7 linked regions of the Homo sapiens genome follow. The protein of the gene in region 5 interacts with the protein of the main gene of each other region in a pairwise test. Each region holds a gene or a part of one and is shown on either strand. Other genes may lie near its edges.

Region 1 (4,107 bases), on a different chromosome or scaffold from region 5:
AAATGAAGAATTTAATAAGCACTCTTTACAACCACAAGTTTTACTTCTATTAAACACTGCTGTCAAATGAGGGCAAATATCTCTGGTCTCTCTCTATATTTCCCTGCCTCATTCCCATAAGCTCTCTACAAATAAAAATTTTTTGGGCCTGAATTTAAGAAGAATGCATAATTATAAATTTATGCCTGAATTGTATTTCTGCTTTCAACCCCATAAGCTTCTTCTTTAAGCTCAGATGCTACTGTATGTCTCTGCTTGTGCTGGAGAGGGTGCTAAACAAACCAAAGTTGACAATTTTGGTTTTGTATACCAAATTAAAGGCTGTCTTCGAAGCTGTCACTCCTATTCAAATCCACTCGGTGAACTACCAAATTAGCATTCTTTCAGTAAAGGAATCTGCTTGTTTAAACATGTGTCTTTAGAAAACAAGGAACAACACCATGAATCAGTACTTCTCAAAAATCTCGCTACAGTTCTGAAGGAATTCTGAAAAGGTGATTAATAATATTCACTAATATAGCTGGCAGAGTCTGTATTTTGAAGGTAAGGCTATACTAAAAATACATTTTCTATATAGGAGTAGGAGGAAGAATCATATGGTTAACTGGTTTTAATTTGGTTTGAATTATCATCCTATTATATAAAGATTATTCAGGAATCTAAATATTGGCTTTCTGAACGTATGGGAAATTCTGTTTAAGGATAGATGTTCCAGTGCTCTGGTACAAGATAATCAAAGCCTGGCCCTATTTGGAGAATTTGATAGATACTTTTTTTTCTGTTCTGGCCACTTTCCTTGAAGCATACTAGCTGTACTTACAATAATAGATTTATTTACTGAGGGACCACTGTGCAGTAGACATTGTGCTAGATGCAATATATCTAGTCTCTCATTTAATCCTCACAATAAGCCCTTTGAGACAAGCATTATCTTCCAGTTTTTCAAATAAGAAAATTATGTCTGGAGTGTTAGGTGACTTGTATTTTGGAAAGTAGCAGTGGTATTTAAGTTTTATGATTTTGCAAACTACTTAATTTATAAGGGGAACAGATTTACATGTGAATTATGAGAACAGAAGAATGTATATATCTACACACACACATATAGAATGTATTCTCTGATTTAAAATAAAGATGATGTATATCCCTATTTTAATGATGCAGCTTCCTTTTTAAAAAAAAAAAAACTCTAGGACAGTTGCTGATTAATTAAACTGTCTAGGGAAAGGGAAACAAAAGTCAATACTCAAAACTGACAAGTATTCAAAGTTGGATATGAATGATTTCAGGAGTGGAGTATCAGAGAGTAGCAGCTTCACTGCCATCATTATGTAGCCTAATATATTCCAAGAAAATATTCTCACTGCCAATAAGATTATAGGGAAACTTTCCCCCAAAGAATTATAGTGTCAGTGTCTGGCAAACATTTGGTTCTCAATGAACAGTTGTCAATTAGGAGAAAATCAGAACCTAAAAATCTCATGTATTGAAGTTGTATAGGGTGTTGATTCACTTTCAAGTAAAAATGCCCTCACATCTCAAAGAGTATCTTCAAAACGAACAGACAGATAAAATAAAACAAAATACCTCAAATGCAGATCTTCATTAAGCATTTCCCTCCTACTGCAGAGTAGTTGTATTCCAGAATAATCTGCTATCCTTAGGGCCTGTTTCTCCCCAGGGACAAGGGCAGTTGTGTCAACTGTCCACACATCCACAGTGGCCCCCTTTAAAACACTTGTTTCAGGCACATGGAAGAACACTGGGCACACATGAAGCAAATATTGAGAGGAGGAGAATACATGAGCAAAAACTAGTGTATAGTATAGGGAGGGCAGAGTTGTGGGACTGGAAACTATAGAACAAAGGGAAGGAATGGCTGATTAAGAATAAAAGGAGACAAAATCAAAGGATCATTTTACATGAAGATGAAGATGTACCAAAATCTTCATCTGCTCCCCAGCAGTACCAATCTACAATAAGGTCTTATGTGGTGTATGTAGTGTGAGTTTATGACTGTGTATCCATGCCATCTTGCATGCAGGGTACATGATATAGACATTCAGGTGCACCATCACACATGTGCATTTCTGCTAAGATCTGCACATCTAATGGAACAACATAGCTTCAAATCCTGTGCATACCTGTAATTTTGTCTCTCACAAGTTTGCAGGATTCTATTTCACCAATGCTCCCGAAGAGACTCCTGAATTCTTCTTGGGTCATATTCTGGGGTAAATAGTTGACGATGAGGTTGGTTTTGCTGTCATCTGTGGTTGCCCCTGTTTGCATGGGAGAAGGACAGTTTCTGTTGTTGCTGGAGGGTCCATTGCTTGTATTGGATGTCGGACCATTTGACACCTGAGGCTCCATGGTGCTAATTATCTAAATAAAAATAAAAACAATTGAAAAAGCCTTTTGAAATCTCAGACACAAAGTCTCTTTTAAAAGTTTATTAATTTTTTTGAAAAGAAAGAGAAGAAGATAAAGCAAGATGGAGCAAGAGACTGGGTTGTGAACACAGCCAATTTAGAAGCATGTTTTTAACCAAAATGTTAAACTCCTCTTTCTATTTTTAGGCCAGCCCATAGATTTTGAACACAGACTAGAATGCAGTAGGAACTCTCCCATTATTTTGTTAATGAAAAGCTAATTCCTGTTTTCATTACACAATCACTCTCAGAAATGTATACTTAAGCCACACCAAATTATAATTAAAATGTAAAGTAATAATCATGATTAAAATTATAGTTCCATTAAAGCTGAAAAAGCTAAATATAGAGGACTACACTCACAAGATCAAATACAGTACCTGTTTATTAACTATCTCATAAAATAAAATGACATTAAATTAAGTGGGGTTGTTCAATATGGGAAGGGTTTAAATTTTCACTGATGCTTAATCACTGATCAAATTTTAGATTTTACAGGTACATTCTAGGGAGCTGCAAAGTCATCTAATGTCTTTTTTTTTTTAATCTAGCCATTCTGTTATTGTTTCTCCCAGACCTCTAATAAAACAAAAAACATGGAGGCAAACTTTTCTCTAGGTCTCCACGTTAGGTCCAGCACCGCCTGAGGCTGTCCACTCACATATTACTCAAAAAGGACTTTCTCTTGATTAAAATATTTAATTAAACAAAGATTTCTGGCTGGTGTGAATGTTCCAGGTAGCACGTATGAGAATAAAGAAATGAATGAATCCCTATCCTCAGGGAGCTTATAGTCTATAGAGGACACAGACAGGTAAACAGCTGGTATAGGGCAGTGATCATGCAATACAGAAGCAATTACTTCTGCTTATAGGATAGGGAGATTTAGGGACAGTTCTGAGAAAATGCTGGAATAGGGTTTTATATGAAAAATGAGTTTAAGCTCATGAAGTCAGGTCATGAAGATGCCCTGTATGGAATGACAAACATGGAGAATTGCAAAATTGCAGAGCCAGAAGGCACATAAGGGAACAAAATCTAGCTCAACACTCACATTCGAGATGAAGCCCAGAGATGTCCAGTTACTTCTCTGTTATCATAGAAAAATGGGGGCAAAGTCCAGGCCTGCACCCGGATTTCCTGGCCCCAAACGCAGCCCATAATTCGCAACTTTCCATTTTGTCTTACACCGTCCTCTATTTGTCCATCATAAAATGGCTTCCATCTCCTCAGAAACTGATCATCAACTCCTTGGAAATGAAATCATACTCTGCCACTTACTAGCTGTGTGACCTTGGCAAGGGACTTAAATCCTAAGAGTCTTCATTTTCCTCATTTGAAAAATGGGAACAATGCCACCGTATGGCAAAGCGGTAAGAACCGATCCAGTGATATGACTTATGTAAAGCACCAGAACAGTGGTGGGCACATAACCACAATCACTGATGTTTATTAGTTACTCTGCCAATCATCCAATGTGACTTCTCTCACTGTCTCCTCACAAGAAGGCAATGAAGCATATTCTAATATTCTCTATGTCTTATAGATGAGGAAACCAAGGCATAGCAGACATCTGATAACTAGTAGCTTCCATTATTATTACCATTTGCCTGCTCAGAGGATTTAGGGGGGAAGCATTTTCATTTACTATAACATACATGTAATAAAGTGTATA
Region 2 (4,107 bases), on a different chromosome or scaffold from region 5:
CAGGCGTGGTGGCTCACGCCTGTAATCCCAGCACTTTGGGAGGCCGCAGCAGGCCGATTACCTGAGGTCAGGAGTTTGAGACCAGCCTGACCAACATGGTGAAACCCCGTCTCAACTAAAAATACAAAAAATTAGCCAGGTGTAATGGCGGGCGCCTGTAATCCCAGCTACTTGGGAGGCTGAGGCAGGAGAATTGCTTGAACCTGGGAGGCAGAGGTTGCAGTGAGCTGAGATCGCACCATTGCACTCCAGCCTGGGCAACAAGAGCAAAACTCCATCTCAAAAAAGAAAAGAAAAAGAATGCTCAAGATGAGGAGAGGCTCTCCTGCCCCTACAGGCCTGGGACTGGAGTTGAGGGACATTTCCTGCACATTGTGCATCTGTTGAGCTCCTCTGGTCCTTCCCTATTGCCTAGGGTCATTTCTTCCTCTCCTTCTCCAGGAATATTTGCATTTAAGTGTTCCCGGGCTGAGGAAATCTTCAACCTCCTTCAGGATCTGATGCAGTGCAACAGCATCAATGTGATGGAAGAGCCTGTCATCATCACCCGCAATAGCCACCCCGCTGAGCTTGACCTCCCTCGAGCCCCCCAGCCACCCAATGGTGAGGAGACCCCAGTGTACACACACACACACACACACACACACACACACACGCCCAGGAAGCACAAATCTGAGGGACTAGTTAAGCTGGCTGGTTGGGAGAAGGCTGGGTGAGCCAACCTTCCAGGACAGTTGTCCATGATCAGAACCATTCTTGAGGATCGGTAAGTCCTGGGCTGGGCTAGGTGACTCAAACTGAGGTTGTTGAGTTCTGGGCCTTGTATTGACTGATGGTTGGGGAGCAGACAGGAAGACTTTGGGTTTCCGTAGAATTGGCAGTCTGGAGTTTTTTTGCTTTCTTCCTCTGTCTATTGGGTCATCCCCATATACCTTCCTTGCTGCTGGTGCAGGCATCTCTGGCCATGACCGTATTCTGGAGAGGGTCCTACAATTTCTGCTTATTCAGTCATTGAATTCAGATCAGGTACCTGTTTGGTATTCAGCGCTCCTTGGACTGGCCCATGGGGGACAGGAGAAATAGAAGCGCAGTCCCTTTTTTTGAGGAGCTTCCCTGGACCTTACTGGCAGACCTAGAATGAAGCAAAGGGACGGTCCAGTGACAGCAAGATGTGCTTTATGCGTTTCGGGTGAGGCTATAATGGAGACAGTGGTGAGGTGCTTCAAGCTGAGCTTGAGGGAAAGGGCAGGGTTTGAAGAGCAGAGGAAAGATGAAGGATAATGGGGGGCTGGTGGCTCAGTGGGGTTTAACCACTGTGACGCCCTGAGAACATCTGTCCTCCATTAGAGGAGTCCCAGGATGCCACACACACAGCTGCAAGTGGTTGTCAGGTGGCTTAAGTTCCCCTCTCCTGGGCTTGTCTCCCGTGTGCTCAGCTCTAGGCTACACTGTCTCCAGCTTTTCCAATGGCTGCCCTGGAGAGGGCCCACGATTCTCAGCTCCCCGGCGGCTCTCGACAAGCAGCCTGCGGCACCCCTCGCTTGGGGAAGAGTCCACCCATGCCCTCATTGCTCCTGATGAGCAGGTGAGCACGCAGCCGGCCAGCCCCTGCCCTGTTGGTCTGGGTGGGGACGAGGGATAGGAAATAAGGCCACCTCCTCCCAGTAAGGATCACGGGAAGGGGAAGAACATTGTAACGGTCCCTTCCTGTCCCCAAAAGGGAGCAGCTTCCTCAGAAGGGTTGGAGGACAAGGAAGAAGAAACTCCAGGTCTTTTTCTGTGTGCTTCTTTTCTCTCATCCTGTCCCTTCTGTTCTCTTTTCTCCCTGCCCTGGGACACTCCTGCCTCACTTGGACTCTTTCCCCAGTCCCACACCTATGTCAACACACCGGCCAGTGAAGATGACCACCGCAGGGGCCGCCACTGCCTGCAGCCCCTGCCTGAGGGTCAGGCACCCTTCCTCCCGCAGGCCCGGGGACCTGACCAACGGGACCCACAGGTGTTCTTGCAGCCAGGCCAGGTGAAGTTTGTGTTGGGCCCGACCCCTGCTCGGCGGCACATGGTGAAGTGCCAGGGCCTCTGTCCCAGCCTGCATGACCCCCCACACCACAATAATAACAATGAGGCCCCTTCTGAGTGTCCAGCCCAGCCCAAGTGCACCTACGAGAACGTCACCGGGGGGCTGTGGCGAGGGGCTGGCTGGAGACTGAGCCCAGAGGAGCCGGGCTGGAATGGCCTTGCCCACCGCCGGGCCGCCCTGCTGCACTATGAGAACCTGCCCCCACTGCCCCCTGTGTGGGAAAGCCAAGCCCAGCAGCTGGGAGGGGAGGCTGGGGATGATGGGGACTCGAGGGATGGGCTCACACCCTCTTCCAATGGCTTCCCTGATGGTGAGGAGGACGAGACCCCACTGCAGAAGCCCACCAGCACCCGGGCCGCCATCCGCAGCCACGGCAGCTTTCCTGTGCCACTGACCCGCCGCCGCGGCTCCCCAAGGGTCTTCAACTTTGATTTCCGCCGGCCGGGGCCCGAGCCCCCAAGGCAGCTTAACTACATCCAGGTGGAGCTAAAGGGCTGGGGTGGAGACCGCCCTAAGGGGCCCCAGAACCCCTCGAGCCCCCAAGCCCCCATGCCCACCACCCACCCTGCCCGAAGCTCAGACTCCTACGCCGTGATTGACCTCAAAAAGACCGTGGCCATGTCCAACCTGCAGAGAGCTCTGCCCCGAGACGATGGCACCGCCAGGAAAACCCGGCACAACAGCACCGACCTGCCTCTGTAGGGACTTCCCGGTCCTCACCACCCTCTGCCCCACCATGATCCAGCCTCTGCCTCACACTCCTGTCCTCTGAACCCACCCTCCCCAGGGTTCAGGGTTGCTTTGCAGAAGGCATGGAGGTGGGACCAGATGCTTCCCTGTGCTGGCTGGAGTCCCCAGAGATATCAGCCACCGAGTCTCCTGGTCTGTCTCCAGGCTGGGGAGAGAAGGGTGACCAGGCGAGGAGGGAGCCGAGACGTCAACTGTGAAGGGTTCCTGTGATTGCGTTTAGCGCCCTCCCGTTCTGTCCATTTGTCTTGTCTGCCGACTGTCCGTGTGTGTTTTTTTTGGTTGGAATTTTGAAACATTTTGTACCTGTTGATTTTATTTATCAGTTTATTTTTCTATTTATTGTTTTAAATGTAATTTAACATATTTATTATTAATATAATTATTTTTAAATTCTGGCCCAGTGGATATCATCTTCTTAGGGAATCTTTTCTGGTGTGGTCCTGGGTTGGACACAGGGCAGGCCTAATCGAGGTAAGGGCTTCACTCTGGGGAATTTGGGTCAGTTATGGTTTTTGTGACAAGTCCATGATTTTTTTTTTTTTTGAGACAGAGTTTCGCTCTTGTGGCCCAGGCTGGAGTGCAGTGGCGTGATTTCAGCTCACTGCAATCTCCACCTCCCGGGCTCAAGCAGTTCTCCCGCCTCAGCCTCCCAAGTAGCTAGAGTTACAGGTGCCTGCCACCGTGCCCAGCTAATTTTTGTATTTTTAGTAGAGATGGGGCTTCTCCATGTTGGCCAGCCTGGTCTCAAACTCCTGACCTCAGGTGATCCACCCACCTCAGCCTCCCAAAGTGCTGGGATTACAGGCGTGAGCCACCGCGCCCGGCCAGTCATTTATTTTTCTCCTCCAAGAAGCCCTGGTCATGAACCTACAGTTGCCAGGGATGGATGCTCTGTTGAAGGAAAGGGGTGGGATGGCTGGAGTCCTAGAAGCCAAAAGGGGAGCCTGTGAGGACTGCCCTAATGAGGTAGAGCCCAGCCCTCTGAGGCTGGTAACAGGTGAGGAGTGCAGCGGAGCGGGCACAGCTACAGAAGAGACACCTTCGCCTTCTTGGGGAGCCCTCACTGACGCCCCTGCCAATAGGCAGGCCCCAAAGGGCACTGCTGTCCTTTACCACCTTGGCCCAGAGATGGATCCTGGATCCTCCTTAGCTGCCCCCAGCATGGCTGAGTCAAGACCAAACCTTTAAACAGGACTTTACTAAAATCCTAGGATTATAGCAAAATGAAAAAATACAGTGTAATGTGTAACTAGATAATCTGGCTTGCTAAGTGTCTT
Region 3 (4,067 bases), on a different chromosome or scaffold from region 5:
CCAGAGCCTGAGGTAGCGAACCCTGGGGACCTGAGTGATCTCGTTTTGTGAGAGAGCCTGGCCCCTCCCCAGAGCCAGCTGCAGAATGGACCTGGCCAGAGAGGAAAGTAGAGATGAGTATGGTGCTGGCCTTTGCAGCCAGCAAGGCTGTGGGGTCTTTGCTGTTCCTGTCCCCCACTACCTTCTTGCCCCCCACTACCTTCTTTCTGGCTGAAACCAGGATAGAGACCCAATATTGGCTGTCCAGCCCCCAGCCCTGCTTCCCCTTTCAGGCCCCTCTGGGAACCACAGAAATCTGGGACCTAGTGTCTTGGCAACGTAATGAATGCATGCACAGCTCTGGTATCTGTTTTAAATTATCCATTAAAATAAGTACAGTTCTGGGGGAAAAAAATAAGTTGACTGGGTGCGGTAAGCAGTAGAAAGGGACTGAAGGGGGAAGGAACCCAGGCAGTGCTTGGGTCCAAAGGAAGGGGACAGGAGATGGAAGGGGCAGTGCCTGGCTCCTATTCTTGGCTTTCTTTAGGGGACTTCTTTAGGGGACTGTGGCTTGTTGCTTGGGTCTAAAAACGAATGCTTGGCTTTGAAGAGAGATAGATTGGGGCAAAAGAAAGAAAAAAAGGGACCCCCCAAACTCCTTGATCCCTGGCCCCAAACTGGGGGCATAAAGGAACTCAGGTTCCAGAACTTTGCTCCCCCCAGGGAACCCAGGCATTCCTTCTCCACCCCACTCCTGGCACACTGAGATGCAGCTCTGAATGGGCTGCCCACGTGTGGAGGGGGGTTGGGGTGACTCACTATTACTACTGGGAGGACAGGGGGAGCCAGTGGTGGAAGAAGGGTGAGTCACACTGATGGGCACCAGCCTCAGCCCTCCCCCCACTTTCCTGGCTCCCAGCCCTGCCTACCTGACCCTCTCCCTTGCTTTGCGCCCACTTCCCTCTCTTTCTCCCCGACCCTTTTGCCCACCCACTCTCCCTCCTTGGCTCTGCCCTCTAGCCCAGAAGGTCTGAGGCAATGGGGGCAAGCTTGGAGCCGACAGTGCTGAGCAGGCAGGAGCCAAGAGAGGGGAAGCTTGAGCCTCACGCAGTTAGGGGTGCGCTGGAGAGGGTGGGGCCCGACTCCGCCACACCCCAACGGTCCTTCCCCCTCCTCACCACTCCCGCCCCCACCCCCAATGGATCTGGGACTGCCCCTTTAAGAGTAGTGGCCCCTCCTCCCTTCAGAGGAGGACCTATTAGAGCCTTTGCCCCGGCGTCGGTGACTCAGTGTTCGCGGGAGCGCCGCACCTACACCAGCCAACCCAGATCCCGAGGTCCGACAGCGCCCGGCCCAGATCCCCACGCCTGCCAGGAGCAAGCCGAGAGCCAGCCGGCCGGCGCACTCCGACTCCGAGCAGTCTCTGTCCTTCGACCCGAGCCCCGCGCCCTTTCCGGGACCCCTGCCCCGCGGGCAGCGCTGCCAACCTGCCGGCCATGGAGACCCCGTCCCAGCGGCGCGCCACCCGCAGCGGGGCGCAGGCCAGCTCCACTCCGCTGTCGCCCACCCGCATCACCCGGCTGCAGGAGAAGGAGGACCTGCAGGAGCTCAATGATCGCTTGGCGGTCTACATCGACCGTGTGCGCTCGCTGGAAACGGAGAACGCAGGGCTGCGCCTTCGCATCACCGAGTCTGAAGAGGTGGTCAGCCGCGAGGTGTCCGGCATCAAGGCCGCCTACGAGGCCGAGCTCGGGGATGCCCGCAAGACCCTTGACTCAGTAGCCAAGGAGCGCGCCCGCCTGCAGCTGGAGCTGAGCAAAGTGCGTGAGGAGTTTAAGGAGCTGAAAGCGCGGTGAGTTCGCCCAGGTGGCTGCGTGCCTGGCGGGGAGTGGAGAGGGCGGCGGGCCGGCGCCCCTGGCCGGCCGCAGGAAGGGAGTGAGAGGGCCTGGAGGCCGATAACTTTGCCATAGTCTCCTCCCTCCCCGGAACTGCCCCCAGCGGGTGACTGGCAGTGTCAAGGGGAATTGTCAAGACAGGACAGAGAGGGAAGTGGTGGTCTCTGGGAGAGGGTCGGGGAGGATATAAGGAATGGTGGGGGTATCAGGGACAAGTTGGGGCTGGGGCCGGCCTGAATTCGGTCAGATTGGGATTTGCCAACTATTTGGAGCCGGGGGGAGGGGCTTGAGCAAAACAGAACTAGCCCTGCCAGCTCGAAGAACTCTGGGCACCCAGGACACATCGGAGTGGCAGAAAGGGTCCTGTTAGAACTTTGTTAGCGGGCTTGGCACTGTGCTAGCTTTGCCCAAGCTGGCTCTGAACACATGATGCCCACTAAGACATAACTCTCAAGTTGGCATCTGTCCAGCGTGTTGGAGCGAGGTCAGGAAGGCAGGGCAATCCCCCTTTTCCCTCCCAAGGGCTTGGCGGTGGCCCCCCCTCAGCATGACCTTGTCCTGGGTTCTAAGGGTTGGGAAGTTCTCCCTCACTCTGCCACTCTGCGTGTCTGGGACCTTCCTTGGGCTCTGACAGGCCCACCAAAAGAGCTCCGGGAGATGAGAGATCGGCTCCCCCGCAGCTCCCACAGCCCTTGGCCTGCTTGGCCCAGGAATGCAAGGGAGGGAGGGAGGCAGAGGGCAGAGGCTCCCAGCTCAGGAAGTTGTGTTATGCCCAGGTCTGGCCGCACTCCTCCCTTGGCCCTCTGCCTAGTGTCTTCGAGGGTTGGGGGCACTGTCCTTCCCTCCTTGGGGTGAGCCACTTTCATTTTCCCAGCGGGGCCAGGCAGTCTTTGCTCGGGCCCATCCTCTTAGCTGCTGACGTTTTGATCTTTGTCTTATTGAAGTGCTGGAATACAGTGACATTTTTGAAATCCAGCCGTTGGAAGATTCAGGCCACTCCCACTTTACCCACCCCTGCCCCACCCTACCCCACCCTACTCAACTGCACCTTCTTCTTTTCTAAAAAAGCCTTTGGGAGCTTGGAAGTATAGGCCCTCTCTTCCAGCCCCATCAAAATTTGTTTCCCTTCTTCCTGCCTTCCCTTTCTCTATGCAGACCCAGGCCAAGAGCACTAAGGGTGCTTGGAGATCCGTAAAGGGCTGTTGGCTTTGACTTCTTCTCTCTCTTTTATCATCTACTCCAAACTTCTGCTCTTCCTAGAACCCTTTGCTAGGTGTGGTTTTGTTGCCCAGGCTGGAGTGCAATGGCACAATCTCGGCTCACTGCAACCTCCGCCTCCCAGGTTCAAGTGATTCTCCTGCCTCAGCCTCCCGAATAGCTGAGATTACAGGCATGTGCCACCATGCCGGGCTAATTTTGTATTTCTAGTAGAGATGGGGTTTCTCCATGTTCGTCAGGCTAGTCTTGAACTCCCAACCTCAGGTGATCCACCCGCCTCAGCCTCCCAAAGTGCTAGGATTACAGGCATGAGCCACCACGCTGGGCCCATCACCCTTCTTTCTGAAGAGTCAATGGAAGTTGTGTGTAGGAAGACAGGCTTAACGGTTTTTTTTTGAGACAGGGTCTTACTCTGTCACCCAGACTGGAGTGAAGTGGTGCGATCTTGGCTCACCACAACCTCTGCCTCCCAGGCTCAAAAGATTCTCCTGCCTCAGCCTCCTGAGTAGCTGGGATTATAAGTGTGTGCCACCACACATGGCTATTTTTTTTTTTTTTTTTTTTTTTAATTTTTAGTAGAGATGGGGTTTCACCATGTTGGCTAGGCTGGTCTCAAACTCCTGACTTCAAATGATCCACCTGCCTCGGCCTCCCAAAGTGCTGGGATTACAGGTGTGAGCTACCATGCCCGGCCATCAACCTTTATTTTGTTTTTTTGAGACGGAGTCTTGCTTTGTTGCCCAGGCTGGAGTACAGTAGTGTGACCTCAGGTCACTGCAACCTCTGCCTCCCAGGTTCAAGCCATGCTCCTGCCTCAGCCTCCCAAGTAGCTGGGACTATAGGTGCCTGCCACCACGCCCGGCTACTTTTTATATTTTTAGTAGAGACGGGGTTTCACCATGTTGGCCAGGGTGATCTCGAACTCCTGACCTCAAGTGATCTGCCTGCCTCAGCCTCCCAAAGTGTTGGGATTAG
Region 4 (4,107 bases), on a different chromosome or scaffold from region 5:
CACCAGGGGGTGGAAACAATGCCAGGGAGAATTCCTGTCACATCAAACAGGAACATTCACTGGATTCCTCTTCCAGGGAAAGGAGCTGGGGGTGGAAGTGTGGAAGGACTGAGTGTTGTTTCTTTTCCAACTCCAGGCAGTGACTCCGGCTGCCAATCATGACTGTCAATCATCGTAGTAATAATCTAACTTGGTGAACACCGTTTTGCAGCCTTTATCTGAGAAAACTCTCTCCTCTTTGGGGAAAAATGTCATCTCCTCAGCCACTCTGCTTACAATGTCTTCATCAATTTCATAGCCTCGGGACTGCATTTCCACTCGGATACACATTTTTAGGTGTTTGTATTCCAGGGGGAGGAAGGGAACAAAATAATCAATGAGGTTCCGGTCAATTAAGCTGCTGTGCCAGAAGCCACCTGGGAAGAAGAAACAAGGTGCTGTTCATCCACATCCACCCACCTGCCCTATAGACGCCTCCTGGGGGTCACTTACCTACCCTCCCATCCGTCCCACAAACGTCTACTGGGGGTCACCTATCCATGCCACACACACCTACTGGGGGTCACCCACCCACCCCCCCCACATCTACTAGGGGTCACCCACCCTCCCATCCATCCCATACACACCTACTGGGTGTCATCCACCCTCCTATCCATCCCATACACATCTACTGGGTGTCATCCACCCTCCTATCCATCCCACACATACCTACTGGGTGTGCCCTCTCCCTTGTGGAGCTCCAGATCAGTGGGGAAGGCAGATGTTAACAGGCACCTGCACATTGTAATGCTTCTGTGACAGCAGAAGCTGTGACAGCCCTCTTTACACGGCGGGCTGGGGGAGGCCTCCCAAGGTATGACTTAAGAGATCGAAGATGGGAAAGAGGTCCTGGGGCCCAGGAACAAGCAGAGAGGCAGAGTGGGGAAGGCAGAGTTCCACAGAAAGCGGGAAGCAAGAAGAATTCCCGGGAAGGACTACCAGCCACGCCTCTGTATTTGGGAACTTTTTGACTCTCCCTGGAGTTTCAGCAGCTGGACTAGCAACAGGGAAGCCTGCTGCCGCTGCCACAGTGCCCAGACCCTGCAGAGCATGTGGGCACCAAAACTAGCCTGGAGAGTGCAGATGTGCAGCCCACGCTGGGCTCCCCGTGAAGGCCTGGCCTTGGCCGTGTTTTCTCCCCTGAATGCGGGCTGGCTCTGCACTGACCCGTCCACTCCTCCTGGGCTCCTGGAACTCCTGACCCAGGACACTTCCTCCCAGCCCCAGATGACACAGCACACACTGCGTCGCCCACGAGCCCATGCGTGTCTTCTACTGAGCTGATTCCCTTCTGGTCTGCCATGTAATTCTGGGGCTCCGTCCCCAACCCAAGCTCCTCCTCATTCACTGGGTTAATGCTTTTCATGCCCAACAGTGCTTTGCACACAACTGGTACTCAATAAATGTGTGGCTGACTGACAGAGTGGAGCCTATGGCCAGGGAAAGAACAGAACCAACCACTGAATGGGAACGAGGGGCTGTCTTGCTATCATGAACTCACGTGGGAGGCTGGTTCTCAGAGGCCTGCTCTGTGCCAGGCACGCCCTGGGCCTGGGGACACAGCTGAGGGCAGACGGACCTCACGGCTTTACCACTCTAGGGCAGGAAACAATCTCAGATGGTGCTTGGAGTGGCGAATGCCACACAGCAGAACGGACATGGAGAGCGGGAGGTGGAGCAGGCTGGGCAGGACCTCAGGGCAGAGCCCGAGCAACAAGGACCCAGCCACGCAGACCCAGGAGTGACGGCAGAACAGGTGACCTCAGGCAGCCCTGAGACTTCACAGTCATCTCCTGAGGACTCCCAAGTTTGCCCTCCTGGCCTGATGGCCTCCCTGGAGCTTCGTGGCTCTGCTCTGATGCCCTGATGCCATTGCCCACTGAGCTCGCCCGTCCTTCCTGCTGTCCCTTCCCTTCAATGGCAGTGCCACCCTTCCCATCGCTCAAGCCAGGTCCTTGATTCTTCTCTCATTCCCATATACAATTCTGCAGGAAGTCTTACAGGTTCTACCTTCAAAACACACCCAGAAGCCAACCGTGTCCCTCCACCCCCACCGCTTCCACGCTGGGCTCCCTGCCCCTGTGGCTGTGGGTCTGTCCTCCATCCAGTTGCCAGCAAGGTCCTGTGAAGGCCCCGTCAGATCACAGCACCACCTGCCCAGGACCCTCCAGGCCTCTCTCTTCCACTTGGAATAAGACTCAAGGTTCACCATGGCCCGCCAGGCTTCCCACGGTCTGCACCTCCACCCCAAATCTCGCCTCTTCTATCACCTCCCGTTTCCCTCCTCTGTTTATCCTCAACCAGTCACAGGGACCCCAAGCACAGGCCCCCCTCGGGCCCCTGGACGTGCTGTCCGCACTGGGGAATGCTTTTCCCTCAGACATCCACATGGCTCACTCCCCCGGGTCAGCCCAAATGCCACCCTCACAGGGAGCCTTCCCTGTCCACTCTATTAAAGCAGAGCCCATCCTTACCCTGAACCCCAAAGCCTTTCTTGATTTTTTTCCCCTACTGGCCCCGGGGGGAAAGATATCTATATGTCCACATGTGTACATGTGCGATGTGTGCATATGTACTGCATGTATACACACAAACACATCACACACATCAACATATCTATCCCCCATCATCTGATACATTTTCTTTCTTTATTATCACTAGGATGTAGGATTGATAAGGGCAAGAATTTCTGTGTTTGTTCACTGCTGTGTCCCCCGTCCTAGGTATGATGCCTGGCACTTACCAGATGCTCCATATACATGTGCTGAATCAATGTTCAGCCATCTGCCTGAGGTCACAGTCAGTCTGTGGGCCAGGGCTGCCCGACTCCCAGGTTGGCACTCCTAAGCACCGTGTAACCTCCACAGCGTGGATTCTAGGCCACGGGGCTCATCTGCCTCAGCATTAGGCTAAAGTTTCCACTGCATGTGCTCATGTTTTTTGGCAAGGCAAGAAACTATCCAACATGTTACAAAATACTTGTCTTTCCTCAGTAGTATTCCACTTGCACACACTGACATACTGTACCCCATGCTGTTCACTAACTGTAGGATTAATTTCTTGGCAAGTCTGTTTCAAATGAGCCCTTCTGTTTTGTCATCTCCAGAACCTGAAGCGCAAAGACTTGAACAGCCAGCCCTGCACAACTCACAGGTCTTAGCCAGTGAGTCAGCCTCCATCAGGCTGGCTTTCCACCTCCCCAGGTTCAAGGTCAAAGGTCTCATGACATTTGGAGAAGTAGTGAGCTAAAACTTAAAAGCTCAGGTTTTAGAATCAGAGATACCGAACAGGCTGCATGGCCCTGGGCAAGCTGCCACATCTCTGAGTCTCAGTCTCTACCCTGCGAGGTATGGTGAAGACTGAGTGAAATCCGCAGGCAGGCTGTTTCACACGGTGCCCAGTACAAAATAAGGGCCGAACCGCTATTTGGCTGTTGCTCTTGGGCAATGCAGAGAAAGGGAGGAACTAACAGGTCATCTCTCCCCCTGAGCTGCCCACGGCATCCTTCCTTGCTCAACCACTGGCTCTTTCTTCTACAAAGAAAATCATGTAGCTGAAGAAAATGGGGGAACTGGCCAGGCGTGGTGGCTCACGCCTGTAATCCCAGCACTTTGGGAGGCCGAGGCAGGCGGATCACGAGGTCAGGAGATAAGACCATCCTGGCTAACATGGTGAAACCCCGTTTCTACTAAAAATACAAAAAATTTGCCGAGTGTGGTGGCAGGTGCCTGTAGTCCCAGCTACTCGGCAGGCTGAGGCAGGAGAATGGTGTGAACCTGGGAGGCAGAGCTTGCAGTGAGCCGAGATCGCGCCACTGCACTCCAGCCTGGGCAACAGAGCGAGACTCCATCTCAAAAAAAAAAAAAAAACAGCAGGCCAGGTATGTAGCTCATGCCTATAATTCCAGCACTTTGGGAGGCTGAGGCGGGAGGATGACTTAAGTCCAGGAAGTCAAGACCAGCCTGGGAAACATAGGAAGACCCAGTCTCTACCAAAAAAAAAAAAAAAAAAAAAAAAAAAAATTAGCCAGGCATGGTGGCGCAAGCCTGTGGTTCCACCTACATGGGA
Region 5 (4,107 bases):
GTTACAGGCATGCATGCACCACCACGCCCGGCTAATTTTTTTGTATTTTTAGTAGAGACGAGGTTTTTCCATGTTGATCAGGCTGGTCTCGAACTCCCGACCTTAGGTGATCCTCCCGCCTTGGCCTCCCAAGGTGCTGGGATTACAGGCATGAGCCACTGCGCCAGGCCTAAACATATTTTTCTTAACCCTTATTTGTGTCCGTTCTGTATAGTGATTGTGCAAAATAACCAGGTCAGGAAAATCTCATGGATTCTAGTTCTTATTTATTTGTTTTTTGAGACTGGATCTTGCTCTGTCACCCAGGCTGGAGTGCAGTGGCATGATCATAGCTCACTGCAGCCTCAACCTTCTAGGCACAAGTGATCCTCCAGCCTCAGCCTCCCAAGTATCTGCAACTACAGGCATGTACCCCCACGCCTGGCTAATTTATTTTTTGTAGTAGAGACAGGGTCTCACCATGTTGCTCAGACTGGTCTCAAACTCCTGGCCTTAAGCAGTCCTCCTGCCTCAGCCTCCCAAAGTGCTTGGATTACGGGCATGAGCCACTGTCCTGGCCTAGTTCTTAATTCTAAAAAATACTGTTGCTCATTTAATTTTACAGAGTATTGGAGGCAGGATGGATTTCTTGCATACATTGTTTCTGTATTTTATCCCATGAACTATCAGGGTAATTTGATTCTTTTCTCCTTATTCTAGGTTTGTGAAGTTTTCTATGCCCAGTGTTCCTGACTTCGAAACGCTATTCTCACAGGTTCAGCTCTTCATCAGCACTTGTAATGGGGAGCACATTCGATATGCAACAGACACTTGTAAGCTAAATAACATTTTATTCTCCATTGAAAATATTTTGCCCTTGTGGTTATATTTATATTTTGAATATTTTGTTATTGTATCTAGTTGCTGGGCTTTGCCATCAGCTAACAAATGCACTTGTGGAAAGAAAACAGGTAAGAAATACTATTCAAGTATTCCTAGTTTTGTTATAATATGTAACTAGCTTACACAATGAATTACTTTATCAAGATTCCAGTTAGTACTGAGCATCCACCACCTAGATATCTGTGGTCACTTGAGAGCACTCACAGCCATTGCTGTAAGCTCAGGCAGTCCCCGCATCCCCTGAATGAGGTGGAGGCACGGGGTGGTTTGGCACCTCAGGGAGGCTGCTGCTGGAACTACCAAGTAGTTGGAATTACCAAGCCAGTACCCTTTATGTTGTAATATGCTGGGTTTTGTCTGTTACATTTTTTCTTTTAACTTTTAATTAGGACATTATTTTAGCCTTACAAAAAGCTTCAAAAATAATATAAAAAATTCTCATACATTTTACCTAGATTTTCCAAATGTTAACATTTTACCGCACTTATTCTTTTTTTTTTCTCTTCCTCTTTTATTCTGAGCCATTGTAGAGTAAGTTGCACATATGCTATTGCTGTTCTTTATCCCTAAATACTTCAGTGGGTAAAGCCTAAAAATTAGGACATTCTGTTACATAGTATAGTGTAATGGTCAGCATCCAGAAATGAACTCTTACTGTTTTTTTTTTTGGAGACAGAGTCTCGCTCTGATGCCTAGGCTGGAGTGCAGTGGCGCCATCTCTGGTCACTGCAACCTCCACCTCCCAGGTTCAAGCAATTCTTCTGCCTCAGCCTCCTGAGTAGCTGGGGACTACAGGTGCATGCTGCCACGCCCAGCTAATTTTTTGTATTTTAGTAGAGACGGGGTTTCACCATGTTGCCAGGCTGGTCTCGAACTCCTGAGCTCAGGCAATCCTCCCGCCTTGGCCTCCCAAAGTGCCAGGATTACAGGCGTGAGCCACCACGCCCGGCCCAGAAATGAACGTTAATATAATGCATCAACAAATTGACAGACCCCATTTAGATTTTCCCCCAGTGAAAAGGACTGTCTTTTGCTATAAAAGGACATTAGCTGTTTGGACAGTGTACTATATATTATATAGCAAAAGAAAACCGTGGACCATGGATTGCATTAGACTGCTTTGTTTCTTTAGTGTCCCTTAATCTGAACAGTTATTTCATTCTTTATCTTTTATAATACATAATTTATAATGTGGATTTTTAAAAAATTTATTTAGTTATTTATTTTTTTGAAATGGAGTCTCATTCTGTTGCCTAGGCTGGAGTGCAGTGGTGTGATCTCAGCTCACTGCAACCTCCACCTTCCAGCTTCAGGCGATTCTCGTGCCTCAGCCTCCTGAGTAGCTGGGACTACAGGCGCATGTCACCTTTCCCAGCTGATTTTTGTTTTGTTTTGTTTTTTGAGACAGAGTCTCGCTCTGTCACCCAGGCTGGAGTGCAATGGCGCAATCTCGGCTCACTGCAACTTCCGCCTCCTGGGTTCAAGCAGTTCTTCTGCCTCAGCCTCCCAAGTAGCTGGGATTACAGGTGCCTGACACCATGCCCGGCTAATTTTTGTATTTTTAGTAGAGACAGGGTTTCACCATGTTTGCCAGGCTGGTGTCAAACTCCTGACCACAGGCGATCCGCCTGCCTCGGCCTCCCAGTGATTTTTGTATTTTTAATAGAGGTGAGGTTTTGCCATGTTGGCCAGGCTAGCCTCTAGAACTCCTGACCTCTGGTGATCCGCCTGCTTCAGCCTCCCAAAGGGCTGAGATTACAGGTGTGAGCCACTTCACCCAGCCAGGTGTTTCTTTTTAATTTGAAAGTAAATTTAAGATTAGTGGTTTGAAAGAGGCTGAAAATAGAACCAGTTGTTATTTTGTAGTACTAAGTAACCATGTTTGAAAGAGATGGTTAAGAAAAATCATGAGTTTTTGAAAAAGCTGTAAGTTATTGAGCTATTTTTAGTCTCTTCACATATATATATATATATTTTTGTTGTTGTTGTTGTTGTTGTTGTTTTTTTGAGATGGGGTCTTGCTCTGTTGCCCAGGCTGGAGTGCAGTGGCGCGATCTCAGCTCACTGCAACCTCCGCCTCCCGGGTTCAAGCGATTCTCCTGCCTCAGCCTCCTGAGTAGCTGGGACCACAGGCACATCCCACCATGCCCGGCTAATTTTTGTATTTTTAGTAGACATGGGGTTTTGCCATGTTGGCCAGGATAATCTTGATCTCCTGACCTCATGATCCACCCATCTTGGCCTCCCAAAATGCTGGGATTACAGGTGTGAGCCACCGTGCCCAGCAATTTTGGAAGAGACTATATTTTAGTCTGCCAAAAACTGATTATGCCTTACTTGACACTTGGTCTTCTTATTTATAATCAGGGCAGGAAACAGTCCTTTTGAAATCTATGGTGTTAGTTTTGGTAGTAATTTACTACCAGGTAAGGGGTAGACTGCCCTATGGGAAAATGCCAACACCCTTAGCCACAAGTAATTTTCCTAAGCATAGGCTGTTGTCTCTTGTATAATAAGTGATTTGGAAAGTTTTCATTTGTTTAGATGTTAATATAATAAACTGTTGAGAAAGTAATACTGTTTTTGATTATTGATCTTCATTGTAAAAATAAAAGCTTTTTATGATTTAAAAAATGGTGCTGAGTTATCTAAAAATTCCAAGAAACAGCTTAAGAAAAGTTTTCTGACTTAAATGGGACAGAAATTTCCTGAAAGAGTATGGAAACCTCATATTGCTATTTAAAGGAACCTATCAATTAGTGTTATTTTTTATTTATAAGTGACAACATAAGATCCAATGTGCTGCCATCTTTGAGAACTTATCTGAAAGAGATGTCATTTCTGACAGCCCCTGCGAGGAATTGGCATCCTTAAGCAAGCCATAGACAAGATGCAGATGAATACAAACCAGCTGACCTCAATACATGCTGATCTCTGCCAGGTAAGCAACCAAAGTGTGTGATTCACACCAAGTCAGAGGTGTAGGTTGTTTATGGGCTTGCTCAACATTGGGTTTGATAAACACAGGCAAGTTGGCGATATTGTGATGTGTTATAGAAGTTGGAATATGTAGGTACATCTATTACATTCAGGCGGGTGCTGGATGCAAACTGTAGGATGGGGCTCAACTAGTAAGCTTGTCGAACAGATAGGGTAATTAATAGTTGTAACTTTTTTTTTTTTTTTTTTTGAGACAGTCTCACTTTGTCGCCCATGCTGGAGTGC
Region 6 (4,107 bases), on a different chromosome or scaffold from region 5:
TTTTAGTCAGGGTCATAGGGATCTAGTATTCTGTCAGATGAGGCTTTGGGAGGTTGGTAAGAACTGCAGGAAGGAATCCAAATGTAGCAAACTAAGTATAGAAATTAAGGAGCAATGCATGACTCTCCAGCCATGGGAGACAAATATTTACAGGCAAACTAAAAGTCAGCTTAATAATCACATAGAAACCCTATTAGCCAGAAAGGAAAAAAAAAAAAAGAAAATGTGACTTCTTAAAATTAAGATGGAAAAAATATTAATAAAGCAAACTAGACCAAGGCTCAACATGAGCCACCCGTGGTGGACTGACAGGAACACATCACTCCACACTACTTCTAAGAGTAAAAATTGTAGAAATTACCCTGAGCAAAGGTGTAATATCTCTTCAGAGTTGTCCACATGTGAGATGCTTACAGCCTAGTGTCAGTAAAATACGGGGTTTTTTTCCATAGCCTGTAAAACATGCTTCGACCATGCCCTTTTAGCATGTAATATCAGCCTGGTAAAGCTCAGCGTATAATTGAATCAAGACTGTTTCTGTGAGCTGTATGAAGGTGTGAATCTCACTTACAACCTCTCTTACTGATTTATTTTCCTCCACCTTGTGTCCTGTCTCCCCATTTGTAAAATGGCAGAAGTGATTCCTGTCCATGCCAACTTTCCCTGCTGAGAACAAGGGAGTGAAGTTAAGTAAGAAGGGCAAGATCTCCAGGGAAGAGTGCAACAGCAAATAGGGGAGGAGACCTGCGGGTGCTGAATGGGGTTTCAGGATCGGTCCTGTATTTCAGGTCCCAAAGTCTTCATCCAATGAGGAGGTAATGTTCCTCACTGTCCAAGTGAAAGGACCAACCCAAGAATTTAAGAAGCGGACCACAGTGATGGTTAAGAACGAGGACAGTCTGGTCTTTGTCCAGACAGACAAATCAATCTACAAACCAGGGCAGACAGGTATGAAGAAGCCTACAGACAGGACAACTTCAAAAAGGAAAGATCTTCTTCCCCTGGATGTTCCCCAGGCAAAGTTCCTATAATCTTGGTTCCTTAATAGCTTGTCTTACCAGCCTACAGGCCTACTTTGGGTTTGGGGGCTCATGAAAAATATTTCTGTTTCAGTGAAATTTCGTGTTGTCTCCATGGATGAAAACTTTCACCCCCTGAATGAGTTGGTGAGTTTTCTATTATCTACATAAAATGATTGTCTGTATAAACAGGCTGGGAACCTGTTTTTTGTGCTGAGGGAAGACCAGGGAGAGGAAGAATCTGGTATCATTAACAGTAACTTCTGGCATTACAACAGCACAAGATCCTAATCTAAAACATCATTCCAGGTAAAGAAAGTAGGTAATTCTTTCTGTCTTGGTGCTGGTACTCAGTCAGTTGTCACACAATTAAATTTACTTTTCGGATGGTTCTTAATTAGGACAATTAGAAAGATACATTCAATAGCAGACACAGAAAAATCCTCAAAGAACCTAAGCTCAAAAAACATTTTAAAGATTTAGATTTTTTCTATACACATCTACCAAAATCTTCACTATAAAGGAAAGTCAGGGTAATTAATTTGTTCCTCAAGACTAACTCTTGGTATCTGTGATAAGAAACAGTTCTTTCTATTGTAATGCAGACATCAACCCAAAGTCTTCATTTTTCTCTCCCAAATTAACTTCTTCACATTTTCTTATCTCAAAAAGAGGCAACTCTTCTCTTCTAGCTCCAAAGACAAAAGATTATGGCCTAGTTCTTGTTTCTCTTTCTCTCATACCCACATCCACTTCACTGGAAAATCATGTTGGCTTAAAATATATTCAGACTATTTCTTATCATCTGAACTACTGCTGCAAGCTAGTCCTAGTCAATGTCATCTCTAAATAAGATCATTACAATAACCTTCAAAGTGGTCTCCCAGCTTCTACTTTCACTCCTCTGTCTAAAATGAGGCACCACACCCATCACTCTGTCAGCCTAACTTGGCTTTGTTTTTCTATTTGCACTTACCACCATTCTATACGTATTGATTTTTAAAAATCTGCCTATTTCTATTATAACATAAGCTCCATTAAAACATGGTTTATTGTTCTTTTGTGCGTGGTTATATTCTCAATACCTAGAATGATACACAGCGCATGAGAAGGTACTTAATAAAGATTAGTTTTTAAAAATGAATAAACATTCATAGTAGCTTCTTATCAATGTTTATTCATTTTTAAAAGTAATATTTATTAAACTAAATTTATTAATGAAATATGTCCATTCCTCCTCATTCTTAGAACTACGTAAGAATTCTATGACCCATCTTAATGATTACATCTGAACATATTTACTTATAGTTACATAAGTGTTTATTTCTCAACCTGTAAAATTGCATAGCAAAGGATTGATCTTCACTAGGATGCTATAAGCACTTAAGACATGTTAATCCATTTTTAGTAAATGGCACTTTACATGTATATTTGTTGCTGAAGGCCTAGTAAGTTCTTAACATTATTTATTAATTGCTTAAAATAGATTAATGAAAAGTTCTATAAAATTTAATCTGGAATATTTCTGTATTTCACTATAGAGGGAATTATTCTATATGAAACTAATTTAGATTTTTTAAACTTTTTATTGTTTTTAATTTTTGTGGAAACATAGCAGGTATATATATTTATGGGTTACATGAGATATTTTGATACAGGCATGCAGTGCATGATAATGATTATGGATGATAATCATTATCATTATCCATATCATTATCCAATCATGGATAATGATTATTATCATGCATTGCATGCCTGTATCAATAAATGGAGTACCCATCCCCTCAAACATTTATTCTTTGTGTTACGAACAAATCCAATTATACTTTTAGTTATTTTTAAATGTACAATTAAATTATTTTTTACTATACTCACCCTGTTATGCTAGCAAATACTAGCTGCTTTGCTTATAAATGAGATTTAAGAATATTTGAAAATAATTATAAACTTCTTTTTTCTTTTGTCTTTCAGATTCCACTAGTATACATTCAGGTAAGCAACATGAAACATTCCATATTAAAAGGAAAGCAATACATATAGGGAAAATGTTCTTATTTCAGAGGTTTTTACAATATCTCAGAAACTTGTCATTAAAGGAGAAGCCTTCAAACTCCCATAGAGCTAGATGGCTATAACTCATCTCCTCTACTCACCCTTTACTACTACCCCATTTGACCTTTTTGTAGATAACTTAGGGTTTCCATAGATATCTTTTATTAGCTCCAATGCTCCAGGTGCTTTTGTAAGTTATAATTAATTTACTCATATAGGATCCCAAAGGAAATCGCATCGCACAATGGCAGAGTTTCCAGTTAGAGGGTGGCCTCAAGCAATTTTCTTTTCCCCTCTCATCAGAGCCCTTCCAGGGCTCCTACAAGGTGGTGGTACAGAAGAAATCAGGTGGAAGGACAGAGCACCCTTTCACCGTGGAGGAATTTGGTATGGATCATGAAAAGTCATCAAGCATTATTTTTCTTCATATTTAAACTCTTAGGTCCTGGAATTTAAGTTCATTTGGAGTCTTTCCATTTCCCATGGGTGACATTGGGCTTGGAGTAGAATTAATTACACCTAAGTCCAATGAGGACATCAGTGATCTGTGAATAGGACTTCACATAGCTTCGTTATTTTCTGTAGCAATATTTAATACCAACCCCCAAAATTAAAACATTCTTGTTTTAATGGAGTTTTCCATAATTAATTAAGCACACAGTGATCTCTCATAGTCCCTCAACTGAAATCTTCATTTGAGAGGAGGATAGATAAGAATAGATTGGAGAGCAGAGCTACCTTTTCAGAGCCCTAAAATATTATTAGGGAACTGTTACAGGGAACCTGAAAATAGGAATTCCCCCAAAGTTGAAAACCAATCACCAACCTTCTTTATCACCAATCAACAGTTCTTCCCAAGTTTGAAGTACAAGTAACAGTGCCAAAGATAATCACCATCTTGGAAGAAGAGATGAATGTATCAGTGTGTGGCCTGTGAGTTCATTTTTTAAAAATCTTTTGTGGGGGATTATTTAAAAGAGACTCACCATTTGGGATATTTTAACTACTCTCTCCGGGAGCAGTGGCAACACAAAAA
Region 7 (4,679 bases), on a different chromosome or scaffold from region 5:
GTCCTCAGGTCCCATCTGAGGCAGACCTGTCTCACAGGACAGCGCTGGAGTCCCCAGCAGCAGCAGCAGCCCCAGCCCTATGGTTCCTGGCAAACCCAGCAGACCTCAGCAACCCGGCTCCTGCAGACCATCCGAGCTGCCTCTGTCCACTCCTGGGCAGGTTGTGCTTGCATTCTGGAAGCTGTTTGACATACAAAGGCCAGATATCAGCCTTCTCGCTAACTCTGGAGTAGGGGAGGGTGTGGTGGGATGTGTGATTGTGTGTGTATGTGTGTGTATGTAGTGTGTGTGCGCATAGATATACAAAGCTGTGTGTATGCATCTGTTTGCGTGCGCAGGTTTGTGGACCTGTTCTGGGGCCTTCTCTCTTTCAGACTGCTGGGGATGGGCACTTTCTCTTTCCCCATCTCTTCCCCATCCAGCCCCACCCATCCCTGGTACCTGCAACTCATCAATACTGGAAACCAGCTCCTGCCAGTCCATCCATCTCTCAGCCTTGGCAGCCGCTGTTGCCCCTCAGCCCCCTCCCCTTCCTACCTCAGGAATCACTCTGGTTCCTGTAAAGCCCATGACTGAGCAGCAATTGGTGTGGGGTTGGGGGGAGGGAGAATCCAGTAAACCAAGACAGAATACAAAAGGCCCACTTAGCCCAGCCCGTGGCATGGGGCAGACCCTCCCGAGTGGGATCCAGAGCTGGGTCCAGCCACCCTCAGCCCCCTATGATGTACCCACCTCATTGGGGCTTGTTGCGGGGTAGGTCTAGGTTTGGGGGCTGTGTCTTTAAGGCTGAAACATCAGCAGACAACCTCTGCTGGGCCGTCTTCAGGGGAGGGGGAGGGGGGCTGGTCAGCCCATTAGCAGCAGAGCTGGCGCCAGGCACCAGCCCTTCACAGGGCCCTGGGGATTAGGGAGAGTAGCTCTTCCCCAGCCCGATCTGCCTCTGCGCCCCTGTCTCCTATTCCTCTCTGGGTGTGGTGAAGGAGGGGTAGCTGACAGCAGGTGAAAATAGAGCCTGGCCTTCAGGGGGCAAGTCAAGGCACTAGCTATGGGGCCTAAGCCAGGTCAACTCTCCCTCCAGCTGGCCTCCTCCCTACTCCTGTGCCAGAAGCCTGCCCTTTAACTTCAGGTCCTTCTACCTCGCAATTTTCAGGGACTCTAGTTCAAGTCAGGCCTTCCTACCCTAGGTTCTAGCTTTGGGTGCTTGTTGGGAGGAAGTGACCCCCACCCCAGCGGCAACAGGGGGCAATCAAGTGGGTAGAGGCCTGCAACCAGGGAAGGGAGGGGAAGGCGCTCCTGCTGTTCCGCAGGGGTGGGGCATCCCCCTCCCCATACAACCCCCCTCCAGCGGGCCATCAGGCCAGTGGGAGGAGCTGCCCGTGCCCCCCCTGAGACCGCAGGGCTATAAAGCCGCCTCGCAGCGGTCTGCGGCTCCTTCCCAGCCCCCGGCCTAGCTCTGCGAACGGTGACTGCCCATCCTTGGCCGCAATGAGCCACCACCCGTCGGGCCTCCGGGCCGGCTTCAGCTCCACCTCATACCGCCGTACCTTCGGTCCACCGCCCTCACTATCCCCCGGGGCCTTCTCCTACTCGTCCAGCTCCCGCTTCTCCAGCAGCCGCCTGCTGGGCTCCGCGTCCCCGAGCTCCTCGGTGCGCCTGGGCAGCTTCCGTAGCCCCCGAGCGGGAGCGGGCGCCCTCCTGCGCCTGCCCTCGGAGCGCCTCGACTTCTCCATGGCCGAGGCCCTCAACCAGGAGTTCCTGGCCACGCGCAGCAACGAGAAGCAGGAGCTGCAGGAGCTCAACGACCGCTTCGCCAACTTCATCGAGAAGGTACGCTTTCTGGAGCAGCAGAACGCGGCCCTGCGCGGGGAGCTGAGCCAAGCCCGGGGCCAGGAGCCGGCGCGCGCCGACCAGCTGTGCCAGCAGGAGCTGCGCGAGCTGCGGCGAGAGCTGGAGCTGTTGGGCCGCGAGCGTGACCGGGTGCAGGTGGAGCGCGACGGGCTGGCGGAGGACCTGGCGGCGCTCAAGCAGAGGTCAGGGGGCAGGGCTGGGCCGCTGCCGTCGAGGCGAGGTCGAAGCGGCCGTCGAGGCGGCTGCTCTTGCCTCCCCTCGCTTCCCCTCTCCATCAGCAGCCCAAGGGTGTGGCTCCCCTTACCAACCCAGGTGTGTGCGGGCAGCATCCCTGCCCACGGGCTCCAAGTGCCCCCCGCTACCCCTTTGCTCTGAGTGTTTGGGGAGGTGGGAGAAGTGGGTATCTGTGCCTCCCCTGAGTAATGAGGAAACCCCCTTTTCAGCTCCCAGTCCGTTAGAGACAATGCGGGGCAATTCCATTAGACAGCCTCAGCCCTCCATTTAGAGTCCTGGGCAGCAGAACAGCCTCTAACCGGATCCTGGGGGGCGTGCGGTCTGGGGTGCGAGCTGGGCGGCGACCCCGCAGTTCAGCCTCTGCACGCTCTTCCCGTCAGGTTGGAGGAGGAGACGCGCAAGCGGGAGGACGCGGAGCACAACCTCGTGCTCTTCCGCAAGGTGAGTCCGAGCCCCTCTCCGAGTTCAGCCTCCCCACCGCTACCCCCGATCTCAGTATCCAGAGGTGGCATCGGTGGGCGCGGGGAGAAGGGGGTAACCCAGATGCCTCCTGAGGCAGACAGGGAAGGCCTGGTCCTTCCTTGGTCTGCGCAGCCCCTAACTTATCTTGAACCTCCACTGCCACCCCTCGAAGGACGTGGACGATGCCACTCTGTCCCGCCTGGAACTAGAGCGCAAGATTGAGTCTCTGATGGATGAGATTGAGTTCCTCAAGAAGCTGCACGAGGAGGTAAGTGGGCCCGGTATCAGGGGCGGTTTCTGAGGTTGTGGGGTGGTCTCGCTGGAGCTGGCGGGTGGAGCGGAGGCATCGCCCTGGGGATCAGGACGATGCTGGGTAGACGCAGCCCCTCCACCCTAGTCTACAGGTGGTTAGACTCCCACCCTTGCGCCACCTGGCGGCGGGCAGCGGGGCTGTACCTCCGAAACCTGGCCTCTGGTCTCGCGCCCGCGGGGGCGCAGGGCTGTACGCCCTGCCCTCCCTGGCGCCCACTTCTGTTCGTTCAAGCGTTTCTTCTCTTTTCTGTGCACGAACTGCGTGGCCCGCGTGGAATTTGCGCCGCTGTCCATCCTCTGCCTGCTCCCGGCCGTAGGAGCTGCGAGACCTGCAGGTGAGTGTGGAGAGCCAGCAGGTGCAGCAGGTGGAGGTGGAAGCCACGGTGAAGCCCGAGCTGACGGCAGCGCTGAGGGACATCCGCGCGCAGTACGAGAGCATCGCCGCGAAGAACCTGCAGGAGGCGGAGGAGTGGTACAAGTCCAAGGTGCAAGAGCCGGGAGGGCCTGCGAGGCGGGACGCTGGGGTGGTGTCGCGCGTCCCAGCCGACTAAAGCCTGGGTTACCCCCACTTCTCAGTACGCGGACCTGTCCGACGCTGCCAACCGGAACCACGAGGCCCTGCGCCAGGCCAAGCAGGAGATGAACGAGTCCCGACGCCAGATCCAGAGTCTAACGTGCGAGGTGGACGGGCTGCGCGGCACGGTGAGTACGAAGCTGCGCGCTCGGGCCCGGGGAGCGGACGATGAAATGTTCTGCAACTGGCCCCTTCCACTCTCCTACCCCAGAACGAGGCGCTGCTCAGGCAGTTGAGAGAGCTGGAGGAGCAGTTCGCCCTGGAGGCGGGGGGCTACCAGGCGGGCGCTGCGCGGCTCGAGGAGGAGCTGCGACAGCTAAAAGAGGAGATGGCGCGGCACCTGAGGGAGTACCAGGAGCTCCTCAACGTCAAGATGGCCCTGGACATCGAGATCGCCACCTACCGCAAGCTGCTGGAGGGCGAGGAGAGCCGGTGAGGGTGGAGCTGCTGGGGCGGGGCAGGGCGGGGTCGGGACTGGGCCGGGCAGGGCGGGGCCTGGGCAGGGGCGCTGACAACTTGCTTCGCCTCTAGGATCTCCGTGCCCGTCCATTCTTTTGCCTCCTTAAATATAAAGACGACTGGTGAGTCTGGCTTACAGCCTGTACCTCTCCTTGTCCACTTCTGCCCTCCTCGGGCTCTTGCTCTGGCTCACCTCAGGGATCTCTTCTCCCCACGGAACTTCTGGGTCCTGGCCTGTACCCACCCCTACTCCTCAAACCCGCCCCTCCCCTGCCCTCAGGGATAGCAGTGGGAGCCTAAGAGGAGAGATTCCCACGCCTTCCCCCTTGAACCCTTTATCCTGCTTTCTTCAGTGCCTGAGGTGGAGCCTCCCCAGGACAGCCACAGCCGGAAGACGGTTCTGATCAAGACCATTGAGACCCGGAATGGGGAGGTGAGGCAGGTCCCCTAATGCCAGGACCCCACCATTTCCCATATTATTTCTGAGCCCCAGCCTGGCTGTCGCTAATCTTACTTAGGGTGGGTAATTCTTGGGGAGAGACAGAGAAGGAGACAGAGAACGTGGATAGATAACCAGGAGCCTCTGCTGGTTACCCCAGGGAGTGGGGCTCTATGATCCAAAGGAGTAGGATGGAGGGTGGCGCTGAATGGCTTGTGCCCATCATATGCCCTGTCCCCAGCAGGTGGTGACAGAGTCCCAGAAGGAGCAGCGCAGTGAGCTGGACAAGTCTTCTGCCCACAGTTACTGAACCCCTTGGTCCGGAGCCTTGACTCTGCCCTAGGCCTGCTC

What was found.
Region 1: the proteins of COPS3 (region 5) and ELAVL4 interact in binary tests that used the Homo sapiens proteins (3 or more experiments, as listed by UniProt).
Region 2: the proteins of COPS3 (region 5) and FRS3 interact in binary tests that used the Homo sapiens proteins (3 or more experiments, as listed by UniProt).
Region 3: the proteins of COPS3 (region 5) and LMNA interact in binary tests that used the Homo sapiens proteins (3 or more experiments, as listed by UniProt).
Region 4: the proteins of COPS3 (region 5) and TOR1A interact in binary tests that used the Homo sapiens proteins (3 or more experiments, as listed by UniProt).
Region 6: the proteins of COPS3 (region 5) and A2M interact in binary tests that used the Homo sapiens proteins (3 or more experiments, as listed by UniProt).
Region 7: the proteins of COPS3 (region 5) and PRPH interact in binary tests that used the Homo sapiens proteins (3 or more experiments, as listed by UniProt).

What each region holds. Positions count from the first base shown.
Region 1 is NC_000001.11:50,143,235-50,147,341, reverse strand, and holds part of ELAVL4 (ELAV-like protein 4), read right to left. Parts: intron 2,386-4,107; coding exon 2,145-2,385; intron 1-2,144. UniProt on the Homo sapiens protein: RNA-binding protein that is involved in the post-transcriptional regulation of mRNAs. Plays a role in the regulation of mRNA stability, alternative splicing and translation.
Region 2 is NC_000006.12:41,769,294-41,773,400, reverse strand, and holds the end of FRS3 (fibroblast growth factor receptor substrate 3), read left to right. Parts: intron 1-441; coding exon 442-603; intron 604-1,436; coding exon 1,437-1,585; intron 1,586-1,867; coding exon 1,868-2,782; 3' UTR 2,783-3,225; downstream 3,226-4,107. UniProt on the Homo sapiens protein: Adapter protein that links FGF and NGF receptors to downstream signaling pathways. Involved in the activation of MAP kinases. Down-regulates ERK2 signaling by interfering with the phosphorylation and nuclear translocation of ERK2.
Region 3 is NC_000001.11:156,113,444-156,117,510, forward strand, and holds the start of LMNA (lamin), read left to right. Parts: upstream 1-1,267; 5' UTR 1,268-1,475; coding exon 1,476-1,831; intron 1,832-4,067.
Region 4 is NC_000009.12:129,813,807-129,817,913, forward strand, and holds part of TOR1A (torsin-1A precursor), read right to left. Parts: intron 417-4,107; coding exon 166-416; 3' UTR 1-165. UniProt on the Homo sapiens protein: Protein with chaperone functions important for the control of protein folding, processing, stability and localization as well as for the reduction of misfolded protein aggregates.
Region 5 is NC_000017.11:17,267,601-17,271,707, reverse strand, and holds part of COPS3 (COP9 signalosome complex subunit 3), read left to right. Parts: intron 1-699; coding exon 700-812; intron 813-900; coding exon 901-950; intron 951-3,662; exon of another isoform or gene 3,663-3,730; coding exon 3,731-3,823; intron 3,824-4,107. UniProt on the Homo sapiens protein: Component of the COP9 signalosome complex (CSN), a complex involved in various cellular and developmental processes.
Region 6 is NC_000012.12:9,109,218-9,113,324, reverse strand, and holds part of A2M (alpha-2-macroglobulin isoform a precursor), read left to right. Parts: intron 1-635; exon of another isoform or gene 636-788; coding exon 789-948; intron 949-1,113; coding exon 1,114-1,166; intron 1,167-2,990; coding exon 2,991-3,011; intron 3,012-3,289; coding exon 3,290-3,458; intron 3,459-3,919; coding exon 3,920-4,004; intron 4,005-4,107. UniProt on the Homo sapiens protein: Is able to inhibit all four classes of proteinases by a unique 'trapping' mechanism. This protein has a peptide stretch, called the 'bait region' which contains specific cleavage sites for different proteinases.
Region 7 is NC_000012.12:49,293,716-49,298,394, forward strand, and holds the start of PRPH (peripherin), read left to right. Parts: upstream 1-1,431; 5' UTR 1,432-1,485; coding exon 1,486-2,030; exon of another isoform or gene 2,031-2,462; coding exon 2,463-2,523; exon of another isoform or gene 2,524-2,716; coding exon 2,717-2,812; exon of another isoform or gene 2,813-2,869; intron 2,870-3,000; exon of another isoform or gene 3,001-3,173; coding exon 3,174-3,341; exon of another isoform or gene 3,342-3,432; coding exon 3,433-3,558; exon of another isoform or gene 3,559-3,641; coding exon 3,642-3,862; exon of another isoform or gene 3,863-3,961; coding exon 3,962-4,011; intron 4,012-4,242; coding exon 4,243-4,322; intron 4,323-4,572; coding exon 4,573-4,638; 3' UTR 4,639-4,679. UniProt on the Homo sapiens protein: Class-III neuronal intermediate filament protein.